2 linked regions of the Homo sapiens genome follow. The protein of the gene in region 1 interacts with the protein of each later gene in a pairwise test. Each region holds a gene or a part of one and is shown in the gene's direction. Other genes may lie near its edges. The genes, in order: SOX6 and SHOX.

Region 1 (7,129 bases):
GGCTTCTGGAAGAAGTAAGATATTAGCTGAGCCTTGAAGGTAGAGTCTGGAAATGTAGAGATGGGGAAGAGTTCTGTAGGGAAGGAAAGAATCAGAATATATACACATCATAATGTAGTGGAAAGGGTGCATCCAAACAGACTAGGCATCACCACCCAAACTCTGGTGATGCCTCTTACTAGTTGTACAACTTTAGATCAGCTACTCAGTCTCCCTTCTCTTCTGTGAAATGGGGGACAATGATATTTACTTTTTAAGATTATTGTAGGTCTTAGACATAGCCTGTGCAAAGCAGCTAGGATAGTTTTTGACACATGGTTAACATTCAGTAACTGATATCATTAGAAGTATAGTGTAAAAGTTAAAAGCATGGGATTTGGAGTCAGACAGGACTCACTTGAATCTCTTCTCTCTCATTTACTTTGTAACCATAGTCAAATTACTTAACCACTTCTAAGCCTCACTTAGCTCATCTGCAAATGGGGATAAATTGGTAGCTTTGTTGTGGGGTTGTTTTGAGATTTAATGAGGTACTGTGAAGCATAAAGTAATGAGCTTGTCGCATAGTATGCACTCAGTACCATTAGCCATTAGGTTGTTATTTTTATTAGTATAACTTCTCTCTTCTTCTTTGATATTTCCTTTGTGATTATTCATATTATTTCCTCCTCTTCGTTCCCTACTCGCTTCATCTACCTTCTTTCAACAACATTTATCAGTGGCATTTGTAGAGACTTAAAATGGAGACTTGAAAGAACGTAGAGGTAGAGAGGAACTGGTCAGTATCACATGTCGAGCAGAACACCAAGGACAAGATAAGAAAAGGACAGGTAGGCACAGATAAATACAAATGACAGGAGCATAAACATATATACAACCTTTTGGATGAGTCATCCTTCCTAAGGCCACTGGAGATTTTTTTTTCATAAGGGAAATTCAGACCTACTACTCCCTATGTTAATCCAATGATTTCCTATTTCCCAGAGGATAAAACCCAAACTATTTTGAATTGCATTTGAAATCCTTTCCAATCTGTTGTCATTCTGTCCTACTAGATATTTTTCCTGCTACTTCCCACCATGCACTCCATAGTTCAGTCACTTCAAAGTTCTTCCTCTTCTTGGAATGTAACCATATTCTTTTATAAGTCTCAGCCCTTGCACATCTTGGAATGTCCTTTTTTTTTTTAGTTCCACCAGACAAACTTCTCGTTCTGAGGACCCGGTTAAGTGAGTCTTCTGTAATGTCTCTGATCCCTCCAAAATGAGGTATTTGTTCCTTCTTCTGGGCTCCTACAATATATCTCTCTAGTACCTGGTTTCTTATCCTATCACTTTTCAATGGTTTATTTTCCATTTATATTTCTTGCTAGACTGTGGACTATGGGAAGTTGCTGTCTTATTTATATGCCTCTGTATGTCTGTCTGGCAGTCAGTATGGTACTTGACACAGTGCAGGTAGTCAGTAAATATTTGTAGGCTAAATAAAAGAGGTAGTAGACACAGAACTGGCAACTTCTCTGGTTCACAAGCCAATTTTAGTATTTCTCCTATTAGGATTGCCTTAGAGTCATAGGCTAATAAAATTTCAGTGTTAGAAACATACCTCATTTTACAGATAAAGAATTGAGGCCAGAGAAAAGGGATTTTCTTTTCTTTCTCTTTCAGGTCAAACCATGATTCTGTTTCCTTCAGAACACTGTGGCAAAATATCTACTACTTGAAAGGAAGCTTATTGAGAAAAATCCTGCTAATTTCTTTCCCTCTTATGGCCTGTCTTCCAGATAATTTCTCCAAACACTTCTTATTTAGGTGTTCTTTCTAGACCAGTAATTGGGGCATAAGTTGATGCTCTGCCACATGAATCGATGTGCATATATGTATATTTTAGTCATGTTGTGTTCTGTTCAGCTGCTAGATGTTCAAACCAACTGGGTTTCCCCTTAGTTACCCTGTTTGTTTGCTGTAACACTTTCCTGTTGGTAGAACTATTTGTTCTTTCATAATAAAATTGAGAATTTTCTTGTAAAATATATTTTTAAGGTAAAACAATGTAATGATTTGTCCTGGCATTCTATAATTTTGAAAGTCGTTGATGGCAGGAGAATGGCAGAGTGGAAGGATGTCTCCTAGTTATAGTTTTATTAGTAATGTGCTGATGTTTAATGGTTTATCAGGACTGAATTTATTTGAAAAGAAAACCATCTAATGTGGTCAGAGTCATCTTTTGTTCACTATGGCTCTGGCCCTTTTTGGGGAGTAAATCAGCTTTTTATGTATACATTCTGCATGGGAGCTGTAATAAGTGAGCACATGTTGCAAATGCTGTGACCTTCAGTCAACTAGAGAAAGATACCTCTTCTAATCAAAGGCAAAAGCCACGATCTTTCTTGTTGTAACTTACTGTTGACACAAGAAAGGCCAGAGAGATTGACATCAATCTCTATAGAAACCATTAACCAATGCTGAATAAATCTGCAGCATTGAATCCATATGCATGCTTGCTTTTATTATTCTTGACCTATGGGCACACTTCAGCATTTTGTGGGCTTTGTTTTAAAAGGAATGTTTAAAATGTAGCTAGTTATTATGGGATTTCGTTGGTGAAATAAATTGTTTGGGTAGTCTAAATAAAAGAATCCGTATTATTTTGCATCTACTAAGCATTATTTGTTTAGGTGTGGCTTGGTTTGATTCCAGATTAACACACAGCGAAGGCTGTCACTTTAGCTGGGTGTAGCAAAAACCAAGTAGTTTTATACATGTTTTCCAAATGATGTGCAAGCAATGTGTCATTTGATTCTAATTGTGACTTTATTGGCTTGTGGTCCCTCTTTTTTATTCTTTAAAGCATTAACAATGACTGTGTTGGCTGAAAAGACATACGTCTTTAAGAATTCCATGGATGCCCAAAACTCAGTTGGTTATAAGTACTAACAATTGCCGACCGTACGCATAGCAGAAATAGGCTCTGTAAATCAGAGCTTCAGTGCTCTGGGCCCCTCTTCCTTAATTCTCCCGCACAGAAATCGTATTTCTAGTTGAGGAGGGTGAGAAAACAAAAATGCTTTTCATTTCATTCTGTGCTGTACATTTTCCAGTCTGGGTGACTAAAGCTGGCCAGGGTGCCTATTTTTGGAAAGAGGAATTAAGATACTTTGGAGAAAGTAGTGCACTGTGTGCTGACATTCCAGATGGCCAAACTATAGTAGTACCAAGCCCAAGTTTTTGAGCCTTTCGTGCCAATGATGACCTCATGAGGTCCAGCCTGGAGAAATAGAGACATAGTTCTCCAACAATGATGAAGAATGGCTTCTTCCTTTCATATTTCTATTGAGTGATCTCCAGTGTCCTCCTCTTTTCCTGTCTCTGACAAAATTAGCCTTTTATAATTAACAATTGTTAGTTTTTTGGCTTGTCTTTCAGACTTCTCTTAGAGTCCCTTTCACCCCATCTACTTATTGTATCCTCTCTACCAAACAGAAAAACTTGTGATATTTTTCTCTTTGGCATTCCTGTCTTTTCCTAGCAGGCTTTTTTAATGGGGACTGTGGGAGATTTTACACTTGATTTGTTGAATCTGAACTCTTTGCTGTAAACTCTCACCACACAGAAGAAACTATCTTTATAAATGACAGAATGGACCTGGCCTGAATGGCGCTTTGTTTACTGTTTTCCTAAAAGGGGCCCCTCTATATTTCATCTGTCAAAGTTGCTTTTCTTTCTTTCAACAATGCTTGATTGTTTTCACAAAAATTCAGGTTCCATAGACAGGAGAATTCTGTATTATATTTTCCTGCCAAATTCCGATCTCTGTTTTCCTTCCCCTGTGCTCACAAAGGGCTCATAACTTACTGTCAACTGTGAGGCAAACCACAAAGCTCCACTGTTGCTCAGCAAATAGGCTCTATTGGATGATGGCTTGACTAGCTTGTAAAGTTTGCTTAACTGTAGCAGCAGTGGCAGAAGGTATGTGGGGTACTGTATCTCCCAACAGGCCAAGAGATTTCACTTCTTTCATTTACTTTTATGTTTTTAACTCCTTTAATTGTTGAACAAAGTTAACAGTGTTTTGTTTAGCAAATTAGATGTTGCTTAAAGTTATGGCTACAATTGGTAGCCTGAGACTTGGCAGAGATTAATTAGCTGTGGGGTTGGGTTTTTTTTTTTTTTGGTTGGCAGTCAGAGGTTTCTTGTGATTTGGGAAGGTGTCAAAGGTGTTATGCCCTCAAGTTCTGAAGTTCTGGCTGATGTGGTAAGAGAAAGCCGGATTGAAGAGTGGAAGAGCAGCCACTTCATGTGAGTGATTTGTGCTTCCTTTAGCTGTCACAGGTCTTGGCTGTATTACTTTACCTTTTAATTTTTCTAACTTCAAAGCCTACCTGATTGGGTGGGATGATGGCTTGTTAAGAAAAGCTTATGTTATGGTAATAAGGTAATAACTTGAAAAGCATTTTTGCATGACATTTGTAATCTTGCTAGGGAATTGCAACAGACTATTTAAAAACAGATTTGGTTTTCCTGAGGGTTGAATATGCATACCTTTATTTGTAGCATCTCGTAGATTTTTAACATGTGATTATTTTTTCTGTATAATCTAAGGTCCTGAGTACTATTATCTATGAGGAATCATAGATTCCCTACATGAATCTTTTCAATAAAATCAATCTTTCCAATATACACGGCTAGTTTCTAATATATGCTGCATCTGATAAGGTATTTTATGCACTATGGTAAAAGATGTTTTTACTAATGAAAATATTTAATCATAATAAACATTTCAAAGAAACACAACTGACAAGCAGACCACTGGGTAATTGCTGATGTGTTTTTAGTAAAAACTTAAAATTATTAATGTTCATAAGCTGCTATAACTAAGCAAGACTGGTATTACATTGAGATTTATAGTATTTAATGCTATAACTATGTATTGAAAGTATTATTTATATAAAACTATAGTAAATTAAATTGATGATTGGCAAGTGCATTAAAAATAGTGCTTTATCAATGCTTTTCAATTTACTCCTTTTTATTCTGCGATACATTTCTTTTGAATTTTTCTGAGTAACACACACCTTGAATTTGTTTTCCATCATGCCTGTCAAAGTTCAAAATATTAATTTGTTTCTTTCCTTATCCAGCTTTCCTAGATACCTTATTGTTTGTGAGTTTGGTCTTTAGGCAAGTTTATCTTGATGATGGAACTTTCAGCTTCAAATTGTGGAAATAGTGATCTCAAACTACACATGGAATAGTGTGTCATTGTTCTAAGCTGTGGTACAGTTAATAATACCTATTTTGTGATAATGAATTGACCAGAATACCAAACAGTTAGTCTAGCAAATCTATGACTCCTCAAGTTGATTTTCTAAAGTGAATTGTGAGAGGAGAATTTTAAGGTAAGCTGCTTTCAATCAGCTCATGAGAATGTGCTGGGGTTCTTTAGCACACTAGTAGCAACTTGATTTTAGACCTGATTTAGAAATAAAAAAAAATTGTGTGAAACAAGTAACATTTTGGAACATTTAGTGTTGGGCCAGGGGACAAGAAAATAATCAGGCTTTGAAAGGTATTCATGTATTTCATAGGATAGGGTAGCTCAGACTTTTTATTTATTGTCAAGTTAATTTAAGCTCTGGTAGCAATTTTAGTATACTGCAAGGCTGCTTCTGTTTAAAAATTAATTCTGAGCAAATGGGTTACAGTCTCCAAATACTTGGACCGTTTTAGTTGAAAATCAAGGAAAGAGGTTAATAATAGGTGGTTTGAATAGGCACCTACAGCTCAGGACTCTATTGTCCTTAGGAATACAGTTATCAGCAGCAGATGCTGTAGGCTTTGGTCTTCCCTGTGTAAAAAGTGATTCCCTCCTGTCCATACCCCTTTTGAGAAACAGTAACAATATATTTTTACCCTGTGCTTTTTATTTTCTTGGCATGGTTCTTGTCATTAGTTCACTCAGCACTGGGTCACGAGTATATTGGGACTGGAAAACTTATATTCCGTGGAATTTTTATTTATTGTGATGTGTAAAAATTCAGAATCTTTTTCTTTAAGGATTTTTATTTGTTTTTGTTTGAGTCAAACCATTTTTCTGTCAAGTTTTCTTTAAAGAAAGTTAGCATTTGTTTCATAACTACCAAATACCAGGTATTTGCACATATATCAAATTAATCTCTTCACAACAACTTTTCAAGGAAGATGTGTTGTCCCTAATTTTATAGATGGGTACATAGAGACTCAGAGAGTTAAGTAACTTCTGAAGTTCACAGACATAGTAAATGAGATTTAAGTCTTTCCTCTAAACCTTTCCATTATACTGTACTTTTCCTTCTGGCAATAGATCCTGGTAAGACTGGTAGCAAGCAGTTTTCCAGTTCTAGGCACCATGGATGCAAATAAAGTATTACTTTTGAAGAAATCTAAAAAGCTGGTAGATTAGGCATGATAAATGTAAAAGTTTTTCAGGGGACTACTCAATTTTGGGAAATCGTGAGGTGGAGGTGGTGGTTATATGAGAAGAAAGAACAGGACCAGATAAATAATGCAGGATTCTTTCCTATAACTAACACCACAGCTTGGGAAAACCAGAAATTCTGTACCTTGGTAGGTGTGCAAATATGTACTTGGTAAAGAATCCCTTAAGTATGCAAGACAGCAGGTAGTCATACTTGTCTTTTATAATGATAACTCAAACAATTCTGTGCAATGATTCATGGAAACAATTGGATTCTCATGTTCTCCTGGAGCTGTTTATGATAATTCCAGCAAATGCAAGTGAGAAATTTAAAGCAAATAGCTATAAGAAAGGGAGGAGGTGGTGGAAGTACAGAGGGAGAAATACAAGATAGCAGCACTTTAGTTATTTGTGAAACCAGACTGTTTGGTGTGTATAAAAAAATGTGGAAATTTGGGTTGGTGGTAAAAACCTTTCTTCAGCTTTCACAGACAATTATAATTTATAAGAATTCATGTCCTCATATGAGAGGCTTTTCTATTTCTTTTCCTCAGAAGTTAGGATATATGTAATGTTATATAGTAGTCATATTTTAAGAGGGTATCTAAATTACTCTGCATTCCCTGAAATCAGCTCTAGACGGGTAGTGTGTTAAATACATATTGTTCAAGCT
Region 2 (7,284 bases), on another chromosome or scaffold:
GAAGGAAGAAAGACAGAACAGGGTGCTAGTATTTACCCCGTTCCCTGTAGACACCCTGGATTTGTCAGCTTTGCAAGCTTCTTGGTTGCAGCGGCCTTGCCTGTGCCCCTTTGAGACTGTTTCCAGACTAAACTTCCAAATGTCAGCCCCTTACCCTTGACAGCAAGGGACATCTCATTAGGGCATCGCGTGCTTCTCATCTGTGCTCAGCAGGCCCGAGATAGGAACAGAGGGGCGTTGGAGATGCCACTTCCACCAGCCCTGGGTTGAAGGGGAGCGAGGGAGACACCTTTTACTTAAACCCCTGAGCTTGGTCAGAGAGGCTGAATGTCTAAAATGAGGAAGAAAAGGTTTTTCACCTGGAAACGCTTGAGGGCTGAGTCTTCTGCCCTTCTGACTCCCCCAGCAAATACAGACAGGTCACCAACTACTGGAGATGAGAAAGTGCCATTTTTGGCACACTCTGGTGGGGTAGGTGCCCGACCGCGTGTGAAAAAGTGGGAAGGAGAGATTTCTGCGCACGCGGTTCAGCCCCCAGGCGCGGTGGCGCATTCAGGTACTCAGACGCGGTTCTGCTGTTCTGCTGAGAAACAGGCTTCGGGTAGGGGCTCCTAGCTCCGCCAGATCGCGGAGGGACCCCCAGCCCTCCTGCGCTGCAGCGGTGGGGATAGCGTCTCTCCGTAGGCCTAGAATCTGCAACCCGCCCCGGGTCCTCCCCGTGTCCTTCCCGGGCGTCCCGCCGGGGATCCCACAGTTGGCAGCTCTTCCTCAAATTCTTTCCCTTAAAAATAGGATTTGACACCCCACTCTCCTTAAAAAAAAAAATAAGAAAAAAAGGTTAGGTTATGTCAACAGAGGTGAAGTGGATAATTGAGGAAACGATTCTGAGATGAGGCCAAGAAAACAACGCTCGTGCAAAGCCCAGGTTTTTGGGAAAGCAGCGAGTATCCTCCTCGGCTTTTGCCTTATGGACCCCACGCAGTTTTTGCGTCAAAGCGCATTGGTTTTCGAGGGCCCCCTTTCCACCGCGGGATGCACGAAGGGGTTCGCCACGTTGCGCAAAACCTCCCCGGCCTCAGCCCTGTGCCCTCCGCTCCCCACGCAGGGATTTATGAATGCAAAGAGAAGCGCGAGGACGTGAAGTCGGAGGACGAGGACGGGCAGACCAAGCTGAAACAGAGGCGCAGCCGCACCAACTTCACGCTGGAGCAGCTGAACGAGCTCGAGCGACTCTTCGACGAGACCCATTACCCCGACGCCTTCATGCGCGAGGAGCTCAGCCAGCGCCTGGGGCTCTCCGAGGCGCGCGTGCAGGTAGGAACCCGGGGGCGGGGGCGGGGGGCCCGGAGCCATCGCCTGGTCCTCGGGAGCGCACAGCACGCGTACAGCCACCTGCGCCCGGGCCGCCGCCGTCCCCTTCCCGGAGCGCGGGGAGGTTGGGTGAGGGACGGGCTGGGGTTCCTGGACTTTTGGAGACGCCTGAGGCCTGTAGGATGGGTTCATTGCGTTTGTTTTTCACCAACAGCAAACAAATATATATACATATATATTATACAAATAACAAATAAATATATATGTTATACAGATGGGTATATTGTATATATTATAGATATTTGTTCGTCCTTGGTGCAAAGACACCCGGTGAACCCATATATTGGCTCCTGACTGCCTTCGGTTCCCCTGGGATTGGTTATAGGGGCAACACATGCAAACAAAACTTTCCCTGGATTATACTTAGGAGACGAAGCTACAGATGCGTTTGATCCAGAGTGTTTTACAAGATTTTTCATTTAAAAAAAAATGTGTCTTTTGGCCCCTGATTCCCCTCCGTCTTCCCGTGTGGCTGCATTGAAAAGGTTTCCTTAGGATGAAAGGAGAGGGGTGTCCTCTGTCCCTAGGTGGAGAGAAACAGGGTCTTCTCTTTCCTCCGTTTTTTCACCTACCGTTTCTATCTCCCTCCTCCCCTCTCCAGCCCTGTCCTCTGCTACAAACCACCCCCTCCTCCCTCCGGCTGTGGGGAGCGCAGGAGCACGTTGGGCATCTGGATGAGCGGAGACTATTAGCGGGGCACGGGGGCTCCCCGAGGAGCGCGCGAATTCACGCTGCCCCATGAGACCAGGCACTGGGGGGCGGAGGGGCCTTGGGTGTGCGCAGAGGGACGGGCGGGCAGAGCCTTCCTCCGCATTCTAAACATTCACTTAAAGGTATGAGTTTATTTCAGGGGTGCTGCTGGGAGAGCCTCCAAATGGCTTCTTCCAGCCCCTGCCTGACAGTTCAGCTCCCCTGGAAGGTCAACTCCTCTAGTCCTTTCTCCTGGTTCTGGGCAGGACAGAAGTGGGGGGAGGGAGAGAGAGAGAGAGAGAGAGAGAGAGACGGTCAGGATCCCCGGACCCTGGGGACCCCGTCAAAAATAAATGAAATTAAGATTGCCGACCAGAGAGAGAACCGTGACAAAGCAAACGGCGTTCAAAGCAAAGAGACGAACTGAAAGCCCGTTCCCGTAGGACTGGTTATGAGGTCAACACATTCAAACACAGCTTGCTCTCGATTTTGCTGAGCAGAGGAAGATACAGATGCATTTGATCCAAAGTGTGTTACATCTTTCATTATATGTGTGTCTCTATATATAAACATATATAAATATATAAACATACATAAATGTATGTAAATATATATAATCTATATACATATATAAATATATAAACACATATATAATATATAAATCTATAAACATATATAATATATAAACATAAATATATAAACATATATAATATATAAATATATTAACATATATAAAATATGTATAAATATATATAAACATATAAACATATATAAATATATAAACATATATAAATATATACAAACATATTGTATATATATAAATATATATAAAAACATATATATACATATAAAAATATATATAAACATATATACATATAAAGAAATATATATAAACATATATACATATAAAATATACATATATAAACATATATATACATAAAATATATATATAAACATATATATACATATAAAAATATATATAAACATATATACATATAAAGAAATATATATAAACATATATACATATAAAATATACATATATAAACATATATATACATATAAAGAAATATATATAAACATATATACATATAAAATATACATATATAAACATATATATACATAAAATATATATATAAACATATATATACATAAAATATATATATAAACATATATATACATATAAAAATATATATATTAACATATATATACATATAAAAATATATATATATTTTTGGCCCCTGATTCCCTTCGGTTCCTGTGGGATGGGTGATTGAGTCAACACATTCAAACACAACTTTTCCATCGATGTTGCTTAGGAGATGAGGATACAGATGCGTTTGATGGAGAGGGTTTTACGAGCTCTTTCATTTAAAAATATATATATATATATATATATATTTTGGCTCCTGATTCTCTTCCGTCTTCCCATGTGGCTGCATTTTAAAAGGCTTCCCTAAGATCGTTAGGATTAAATCAACCCTCCCCAGGCATCTTTACCGAGGGCTGTGGTCCCCAAAGCGATACAGCCCAGGAGGGAGAGAGGCTTTGGTGACTTGGAGGAAGGACTGTGTCCCTCCTTAGGGCGTCTGTGGCCTCAGTGAGGGAAGGAAGCTGCATCAGACAGGGGTTTCCTCGCTGTCCACCCCTCTGGCAGAAGATGGATTGGGCTGCCCCGTATAAATTAATGAAAAGATTAAAGTTTCGCTAAAGGGGACATCGAGTTTATGTGTCATCTCCTGGTGTCTGTGTGCCTGGGATCTGCAATATATCCCAGCCCTTGATGTACTGTTTCTATAAAAATAAATTACTTGTAATTTAATTCCACACTATTTCTTTCCGTAGTCTATTACCGACGAGAGCACGTTAGTTCAGCTGCGGAAAATTGGTTGTGGGGTGTGTGCGGACCCCGAGAACGCCCTAAAATAAAGACAAATCGGGGACAAGCTGGGGGTTATCGATTGCAGGGGTCGCATGAAAATTTAACGACGGTAAATAATAATAACAACAAACATGGGAATGCAATAAAAGACATAATTCTCCATCGCCGCGGGGGGAAAGGATCCTATAGTAAAGGCGAGTGCGCTTTGAGGGGTCATAAAAATCAATTAGTTCCAACACCCACGTCCCGCGTTGAGGGGACGGGGACGAGCAGGGACAGAAAAAGAAACCATATTTGAATCCCATCTCTCTGTGAATTCTTGGGTCACATGCGTCTCAGTACAGCCCGTCCCGTGCTGTGACCGGATAGAGTTTCAATTTACTGTGGAAATTTGCTGTAAATAAATTGAGCATCCGATAGAAGCTGTTGCTGATTAACCTTTTATTTTTAGCGTGGCCCTGCAAAGTCGTATCACCCAGCTGTCAGGCTTCTAATCGAAAGTTATGAGACCACGGTGAGGGGCAGGCGGTAATTTAATTACAACAAATATCTTTGGGTTTATGGCGCAGAGCTAAATTAAATGTCATTATTCACTGTCTGTAATGGAAATCAAAAGGAAATCGCATTACGGCATTTGGGAAAGAAAGCGGGGAGTGCTCTTTAATGAAGAAATAACTGTCTTAAGCAGTGTCACACACTTCACTTACCATATTCGGGCCTAATTGGAATGGATCGTGAATCACTCCAAGACTGATTTATTAGCGCTTCACGCAGCGGCTAATTCATCACTTGTATTCTTCATCATTTTTTTTTTTCCTCTCGCCGTGTTGAAGGGAGAGTGAATGAGGCTTTCCACGTTTCAGGAGGATTTTCTTTTTTGAAAAATGCCCTTCCAGAGGCTTTTGGGTGGCTGGCTTGCTTTCTGGGCCCTGGAGGAGACAGGCGGAGAGTCCAGGTGGGCATGGAGAGGCACAGTGGCAGGTCACCTGGATGGTCAGTGGAGGTGGAGGTCTGAAGGCGCCAGCTTTGGAAATTATTGGTGAATTTCGATGTCAGCACCAGGCAGGGGCCTTTTTGGCGGGGGTGTGAGGGAGGATGACTTTGCTGGGAAACAGGATCAGGTTCTCCAGGCGCACTGCAGCCCGGTAGGACCCACTTTGGAAATGAAAAGCCAGTTCCGAAAGCTGGGCTGGAAGCTTCCGTGTTGGGTTCAAGAGCAAGTTCACGTTGCGCTGTGTAGACTCCTGGCTGCTCCCAAACTCTGAGGGTTTTCTGAGGTTCCCTTCATAGGGGCACCGGCCCTGGGCCATGCACAGTGTGTAAGGGTGGCTGTGGGCCGAGGGACCCAGCACGTGTTTTGCCCACAACAGCCGGAGTGACTGGTTCACTCACCGCCTTGGCGGAGGACGCCTGTTCTCTGGACGAATCATTTCTCTTGGGTGGTGACTGCCTTGTGGGTCAAGGTGCAGGTTTTCTGCCACAGAAAACCTGTTAGGAGGAATTAAGCGACTAAGACTGTCAGGGAGGTGGTGGTGGGGGAGAGGAGGGGGTGGTGTCCAGATTACCAGGCATAGGCTAAACTGCCTGCACTCTCCAGCTGGTCTGTCTGTGGAGGAGGGGATTGTCAATACTGGGAGAGCAGAGGAGGCTCGTAGGAGGTGAGAGGGGGTGGAATTTGCATGCAAATCTTCACATGAGGCCTGTGTGAATTTCTCCAGCCTCCTGAGGGTCCCCTGCGCTATTGCACTCAACTTCTTGATAGTTTACCCCAAGACTCAGAAGTCCTTAGAGGGGCAGAATGCCCCCACCACAAAGCCTGCTATCCTTGGGCGTCCTCATGACCCTTGGTCATGAATGGGACCCTTTCATGTATGGGGACCCTTGGTAATATGAATGGGACGCCTTCAGCTCCCCAGGGCTTCCGAGGAGGCCGAGAAGGGCAAAGACACTTCCGAGGAGGCCGAGAAGGGCAAAGACATTTTCTGGGCTTGGTGTGTCAAGAGCTAGATTGGAGAAGGGGCTGGATTTGGAACTCTTTAGCCATCAGCTCACCCTCTCCGTTTGTGGCTAAAGTCTGAAGGTGGAAACTTCGGTTCTCCTACAGGGTCTACAGGAGTTGGGGGGCGGGGCGCCCACACAGAACGCTGGAAAGTTCGACAGTCCACTTCCACTGGCTCGGAACTCACTTTTTCACCTTAAGTTCATCAGCGGTAACGCATAGGTCTCACTTAGGCAGGGCACGGATGATTTAACAATTTCTACTTCTAGGTCAGGTGCGGTGGCTCACACCTCTAATCCCAGCACTTTGGGAGGCCCAGGAGGGTGGATCGCTTGAGGTCAGGAGTTTGAGACCAGCCTGGCCAACATGGTGAAACCCCGTCTCTACTAAAATACGAAAATTAGCCAGGCATGGTGGTGAGCACCTGTAATTCCAGCTACTCGGGAGGCTGAGGCAGGAGAATCGCTTGAACCTGGGAGGTGGACGTTGCAGTGAGGTGAGATCACACCACTGCACTCCAGCCTGGATGAGAGAGCAAGACTCTGTCTCAAAAACAAAATAAAACAAAAACAAAACAAAAATCAAAAAAGAAAACCCAATTTCCAGTTCTAGGCCAGGTGCAGTGGCTCACGCCTGTCATCCCAGCACTTTGGGAGGCCCAGGAGGGTGGATCGCTTGAGGTCAGGAGTTCGAGACCAGCCTGGCCAACATGGTGAAACCCCATCTCTACTAAAAATACAAACGTTAGCTAGGTGTGGTGGTGTGCGCCTGTAATCCCAGCTACTCGGGAAGCTGAGGCTGGAGAATTGCTTGAATCTGGGAGGTGGAGGTTGCAGGGAGGCGAGATAGTGCCACTGCAGTCCAGCCTGGACCAGAGAGCAAGACTCCGTCTCAAAAACAAAAGAAAGCAAAAACAAAAAACAAGAGACCAGCCTGGCCAACATGGTGAAACCGCGTCTCTACTAAAATACAAAATTAGCCGGGCATGGTGGTGGGCACCTGTAGTCCCAGCTACTCGGGAGGCTGAGGCAGGAGAATGGCTTGAACCTGGGAGGTGGAGCTTGCAGTGAGCCGAGATAGTGCCACTGCACTCCAGCCTGGGCGACAGAGCGAGACTTGATTTCAGAACCACCACCACCACAACAAAACAAAACAAAAAATCCAAAAAAACCCCAATTTCCAGTACTAGGTAGTCAGTGATGCAGGGCTGGAGACAGAGGGGCGGTAAGTGTCTGGGCGCCCACCATCAGTCACCTCCCAGCTCCCAGAGGTGCAAAGTGCTTGGTTCAGCCTCATGGGAAGGATGCTCCCTGGGGAGGCTGGGCTGGGTTCACAGGGCTCTTCA

What was found.
Region 2: the proteins of SOX6 (region 1) and SHOX interact in binary tests that used the Homo sapiens proteins (3 or more experiments, as listed by UniProt).

The regions. Positions count from the first base shown.
Region 1 is NC_000011.10:16,353,263-16,360,391, reverse strand, and holds the start of SOX6 (transcription factor SOX-6), read left to right. Parts: upstream 1-3,845; 5' UTR 3,846-4,298; intron 4,299-7,129. UniProt on the Homo sapiens protein: Transcription factor that plays a key role in several developmental processes, including neurogenesis, chondrocytes differentiation and cartilage formation.
Region 2 is NC_000023.11:633,513-640,796, forward strand, and holds part of SHOX (short stature homeobox protein), read left to right. Parts: intron 1-1,105; coding exon 1,106-1,314; intron 1,315-7,284. UniProt on the Homo sapiens protein: Controls fundamental aspects of growth and development.